Linked DNA regions of Homo sapiens: region 1 is linked to region 2. The links come from fine-mapping of genetic effects on gene expression. A gene starts in region 2. The other region holds a variant in brackets. All regions are shown on one strand. Distances are between the middles of the regions. Region 1 holds the start of ESAM-AS1 (ESAM antisense RNA 1). Region 2 holds the start of MSANTD2 (Myb/SANT DNA binding domain containing 2).

What was found. PIP is the estimated chance that this variant, and not a neighbour inherited with it, causes the effect. A credible set is the group of variants that fine-mapping cannot tell apart.
Region 1: its variant is the best candidate, but not a certain one, in a credible set for the expression of MSANTD2 in whole blood (TOPMed, PIP 0.51).

What each region holds. Positions count from the first base shown.
Region 1 is chr11:124,757,949-124,760,839 of GRCh38, forward strand. It overlaps ESAM (endothelial cell adhesion molecule), which reads right to left. Exons shown (of 7, transcript NM_138961.3): 2 at 401-579. It overlaps ESAM-AS1 (ESAM antisense RNA 1), which reads left to right and starts at 1,186. Exons shown (of 2, transcript NR_120577.1): 1 at 1,186-1,465. RefSeq lists enhancers at 280-439, 1,933-2,002. The variant C/T (reference allele first, on the strand shown) is at 1,501.
Region 2 is chr11:124,798,631-124,801,521 of GRCh38, forward strand. MSANTD2 (Myb/SANT DNA binding domain containing 2) reads right to left here and starts at 1,776. Exons shown (of 4, transcript NM_001308027.2): 1 at 1,241-1,776. The coding sequence starts at 1,750. It overlaps MSANTD2-AS1 (MSANTD2 antisense RNA 1), which reads left to right and starts at 1,798. Exons shown (of 5, transcript NR_103862.1): 1 at 1,798-2,626. RefSeq lists silencers at 419-468, 699-778, 1,179-1,418, 1,459-2,128 and an enhancer at 1,355-1,962.

The sequences.
Region 1 (2,891 bases), 41 kb before region 2:
TCGGCCTCCCAAAGTGCTGGGATTACAGGTATGAGTCACTGAGTCAGGCCAGAAATATGCTAACTTTTATAAGTCGTGTGTGTTACTTCCCCTAAGCGTTTCCCAGTCCTCAACTTCCATTCTTCCCCTCCTCCTCTCCTCCCTCATAACCAAGTAAAATGCCTCTCACACTTTTACAGTATTTTGTGTGCTGGATTTTTAGGGAAAGCCGGCAAAAGATAATTGTTTGGGAAGTCTCCAATATCAGAACAAAAACTGAACTGGTGAAGACTTCTGCTTTTCCCTGAAACTCCTTCCCCGGCCCCCATTCCCTCTCCACCCCTCCCACCGCTACCAGCTCTTTGCTTACAACCCCCTCTGGGCGCAACTTGCCGCTGGCTGACAGGCGTTCTTCCCTCACCTGATCCTCCTTTTCTTTCTGTTTGAAGAACCACATCACAAAGGGCACCTCCCATGGCTGGGATGAAGACACCTCCCCGTGCAAGGTGTACCACGCTGGAAGCACCACTTCCCCTCCCTCCACCGCCTGCAACCGGTTGGCGGGCAAGTGCAGTTGCAGCTGGGCCCGCGAGGGGGGCGCTGGAGACAAGAGCGAGGCGTGAGTGCCCAGGACCGGCTCCCAGCTCCGCCCGCGGACCCTGCCCTACGCGGCTTCACCAGAGAGCGAGGAAAGTCGCTTTAACTGGAAAGAGGAACCTTGCGGGGTCCGGCCCCTGGAGGCCTCAAGGGGTGCCCAGGGACCACTGGCTCAGTGTCCTGCTTCCCATTTCATCACGACTTCTCTCCACCGCCAGCCTCTGCAGTTGTAGCGGGGATGGGGACACATTTATATGCATTTATTCGTATCCAGAGGCGCAGATTTCTGAGCATCAAAGAGAGGGGGCAGATTTCCAGCGAGGAGGGGAAGATATGAGAAGAAAGGGTGGACCGACTGTTTCTGTCGTACGCGCCACGTAGCCCACTTGCTTCCCTAGTTTTCCTGAGGGAGAGTAGGGATGCTGCTCCGGGCCGCCAGGGTCCCTCACTCCCGAGTTCTCAAAGGGCGGAGGGGTTTGGGAGGCCGTCTGGTTACCTATTAACCCTGCGGCTCCTTCTGAGCTTGCCAGGAGCTGGAGAGAGCAGAGCAGCCCAGCGCCCAAGCCTGACCCAGTGAATGCGATGCTCCCCGCCCTCCCGCGCAATCTCAGAGGCGGGCTTCCCTCGGAAAACGGAGGGTTGAAACCCAGAAAGCTCCTCGGAGCCCTTCTGGGGTTCGGGCGATCTGGGCAGAGAACTCTCGGGTGGCAAGGAATTAAGGGCAGCGCGAACGACGGTCTCTAGACAAGTATGAAGCCTCCCCTGAGTGTGTCCGGCGCTCAGGGGGTGGACCGGGGTGTTGGTTTCAAGGAGGGGGCCATCGTTTGCACCACGGCGTCCAGAAATACTCATCCTTTGCCCTTCGGGGAGGCAACAGAGCAGCCAACTGGTAAGCCCTTTGGGGAATAACCTTGGGCTTGCACA[C/T]GGCCAGGCCTGAGGATGATCGCCGCTCCAGTCCCGGGCCCTACTCCCTCCAGGCCTCGGCCCTCTGCCTCGGAGCGGAAGACGCCACCTCCGCGTGGCGAGCAGGCGGCCAACGCCGCGGGAAGAGGCCGCAGCCAGGCCCCGCTCTCCACCCTCGCCCTAGGAGAGCCAGGCTGAAGGCCTCTAAGGGCTGGGAGCCGATCCGGCCAGGATGCAAGCCTCCCCCACCGCTTCCCGGCTGCGCCGTACAGAACCCCCACCTCTGTTACTTGGCCTTCGCAGCATCCCCCTTCCCATTTCCTGGAGGATCTCTGTGGTCTGGGCAGGAAATTTGTACCCAGTGATAAGGCAGAAGACAATGAAGGGGGGGCCACTAGACCGGAGGCTCTACGGGAGGAAACAATCCCCGCCTCAAGGAGCTGGACGCCCCCTGGGGACCCGGCCCGCTGGCCATTCCGCTGAGGCCGGGCACGCCTGGAGCCTGCAGGTGCTGCCGGCTCTCCCCCAGCCTTTCTACGACACACACCCGGCGGCCAGAAAGGGTTTCCGCCGGGAAACTGCCTGGGGCCCAGAAGGGGCGCGCCCTTCCTTCACCTTGTGGACCACCAGCGACCTCCCCAGGTCCCACATTTATAATTCCACTTTCCAGAAGGTAGAGGAGAGTTAAAAGAGATAGTAACGGACACACTGGGGTCTGGGCACATGCTCCTTGCCCTTCGCCCTGTCAGAAACTAGGAACAGAAGAGGGCCTGAGGCTTTTCTGCTCTCCCTCCTGGGTGTCTGCTGGCTCGGAAGTCACCAACTGGTCCGTTTTTTTCGGTCCCAGGGTCCACGGAGCCACTGGGAGAGAAAAGGAGTCTGGTTGGGTCTGATCGAAGGACACTGGGACAGCCCAAGAAAGGGACCCTTCCGGCCCACAGCCCTCTCCGAGGCCAGAGTGAGGGAGCCGGCAGGGGCCGAAGGAGAGCGAAATGGGCCCGCTCCCCGGGGCTATTTTTAGTCTCCCTCTTTCTCTGAGAAACTCCCCCCGCGGGCTTCTCACGCCCCAGGGGCAGCAGCACTGAGCCGCCGAGGAGCCTACTGAGCCGGAGAGCCTCCTCCAGAGCCCAGAAGAGCGGAGCCGGGCGCCTGCACGTTGCACCGGGGTCACCAGTGCCATTTAACCCTCGAGTGGCTGGCGGGAACTGGGCAACCCCCCAGGGGGACCGATTGGAACTTTTGAGTCCAGGTCTTCAGTCTGACAAACTGAGGCTCAAAGCTGGGGTAGGACAAAGGGTTGCAGATGAGCAGCAGGTGAAGCCTGGGACACTCAGGCAGTCAACTTGAACTGTCCTCCCTGGCTTCAGAGATTCCCCCAGCCCCCACCCCCCACAAGGAAGGGGGATAGAGTT
Region 2 (2,891 bases):
ACATCCCCAAAGAAATACTACTGGAGCCAAGACCTGGAGAACTTTGGTGCAATTTCCCTCCTTTAGCTTACTCTAACTCATGATTGCGCCTATTAGACTTTATTATTGCTCTTTAGTGTGATCATTCTTATTTTATAATTGTTCTTGGTGGTTTTTATCCCCCCTCAAGAAGTTCCCAGAAAAAGTGCCAGCTGTATCAGAAAAGAAGTGCACAGATAATAGGATAAGTAGTTCAGTAAAAACTGGGAGAATCCTATCACAATCTTTTTAGCAGCCACTACGATGAGGAAATGAGCTTAACTAAAATACAACTCCTTATCTGCCAATAATACAAATATGAAAGCCTAGAGTCAGTTCTAGTAGCAAAATCTTAACCTGGCTAAGATTTCTAGCCCAAATTAAGCCTCTGCATTTAAACATGCAGGTACACAAGGACGGCCAGATGCACACTGAGAGTTCTACTTGTCACCACATCCGGCACAGAAACTGAAGCAGGGAAAAACTGGCTTTCCTGAAGGAGCTTCCTAAGAAACCGCAGGGCCTCAAGCCAATCTAACTCTGGAGGCATCGACAATCCAAATTCCAGACCAACTCTTGGCCAAGCTAACTTTTATGGTGTACACTAACTCCGCGGTAACAATACACAATCTGGCTACAATCAAGCCTTTCCAATTCTCCAAAGCATCTCTAGTCTTACTCGTCCTTCGTAGCTCAAGATAGAAGCAAAGCGACTGACACAAAGGCCAGTCGTCCCAAGGCGCTTTTTCTATGGCTCCGCTACGGCCACTTATTAACTATTCCTAAACTAGGGGCTCAATGCCCCCCCCTTCTGCCCTTCCTCAATCCTGCCCCGGCCGGTAAGCCTCTGCCTGGGAGCCCCTCCGCCTGGAACAAAGCGAGGGGCCCCGGCGGTGGGGGCAAGAGGCGCCAGCGGCACGGGGACTGCCGCACGGCGCACAATGAGAAACTACCAACTTCAGAGCGCAGGAACATCTCAATTGGCAAGAAAGAGGGGCGGCGGCAGGCACGCCCAACTTCAAACTCAGGAAACCTACGGGCTGGCGGCCATCTGGGAAAAAGCCCCCTTCCCAGGGAGAGAAGAAAAAGGCGGAGGAGATGCGAATCGCCCACCGGGCCCCGGAGGAGAGCCCTGCCCTCAGACCGGCCCCCGCCCCCGAGGCCCGCTTCCCCGCCTTCTCTCTGCCTCTGGTTCGCTGCCCCAGGCCGGGCGGCCGGTTACCTTGATGCGCTCCCGGCACTGGGACGGGGTCCGCTCGTAGCCCAGCTCGGCCAGGGCCCGGGACACGCGCTCGTACATGGCTGGCCCGGGGGCCTTGCTGCCGAACACCGTGCCGGCTCCCTCCAGCTGCTGGTACCGCGCCTCCACCAGCCGCTCGTTGCCCCACACTGCGATGAGCGCGTTCGTCTCGGCTGGCGTCCACGACATGCCCCGGCAGGCGGCGGCGGCGGCTGCCGCAGCCCCGCCACCGCCGCCACCAGGGGAGAAGGAGACCGAGGACGAGGCGGCGCTGCGGCCCCCCAGCCCCAGCCCGAGACCCCCGGACGCCGCTGCCCCCGAGCCCGCCGCACTGCCCGGCCCGAGCGGGGAGGCACCCCGAGGCGTGGAAGGGTCGGACAGCGATGGATTTCCGTCGCTCAGGCCACCAGGAGAAGCCGGGGAAAGCACCTCCATCTTCGGAATTTTTAGCGGCGAGTTGGCGGGCAGCTCCGAGCCACAGGGCGCAGCCATCTTCCAAGCGGCCGCCGCTGCACCGCCCGGAAGTGACGCGCCCGCGCATCCGGCCACCGCGGTCTCCGGGGCTGCCCTCGGGCCTGGCTCGCCCGCGGGCGGATGGCTCCGGGTCTCTGCTGCTGAGGATGTGGCTGCCGGGCGGAGGTCGTCCACTCCCCTGGGCCTTTCTCCGCGAGCCCTCCCACGCCGCCCGCTCCTCTCCCGGGGCGAAGGGCGGGGACGAGGCGCGCCGAAGCCCCGAGCTGAAGAGAAGGGTGGGGGCATGAGGGCGCTGGAGTGAGGAACAGATTGGAGCCTTCCCACTTCCTCTCCAATCTCAGCCCCCGGGAGGAGGGGTGAGGCCCTCGAGGGGGCCCGGAGTTAAGGAGGAATAGACCGTTTCTCTCTCTCCTGTCTCCCCCGCCTCTGCCCGTCTTCCCTCTAAGCCGGCCTCTAGGTGCAGAGGCTGACGTCCAGGATGGGGACCGGGGAAGCCTCTGGAGGGTATATCCGGGAAGGCACCAAGGCTGAAGTGAGAGCGGTTCTGGGGAAGGCTTTAAAAAGCAGATATGGACCAGGGTAGAGTTCGTACGCTGTAGCTTTTCAAGAACACCGATCTCATTAATTAAAGAACAGCAACTATTTAATTCCAGTTATAAACTATTGTTTTCCAGTTAGTCTGGGTAGGTGTGGCCGTTTGTAGAATAGTTAGATTACATTAGTCTATTGCGTTGGTACAGTTGTCTATAGCTTGAGCATATAAAAACTCCTGAGCCCAGCAGAAAAGTTACTTTCCAATACCAGTCTCCATCCTCCGTGCTTTGGAAGTTGCATCGTTTTCCGGTTTTTCGTACTCAAAGAACACTGTCAATTATGACAGCTCTGTGACCTCTGGTAATGAATTAGTGTATTAGTCACTCCTGAAACGTTCCTTAAAGTGCTGGAACTTAACAGTAGCACAGCACATCCAGTACACAGCTGTACCGTATTTCCATATTTTTCAAAGCTGAAAATCTTAATTGGATATCTTGGATCATTAACTTAAAACCTCAGCGGATTTTTCTTTCAAAGCAGACATAACTGAGGATGCTGACCAATGAATGCAAATAAACTATGCAATATTTTTTAAAATAACAAATGTATGTTAGTTTTTTTTAAG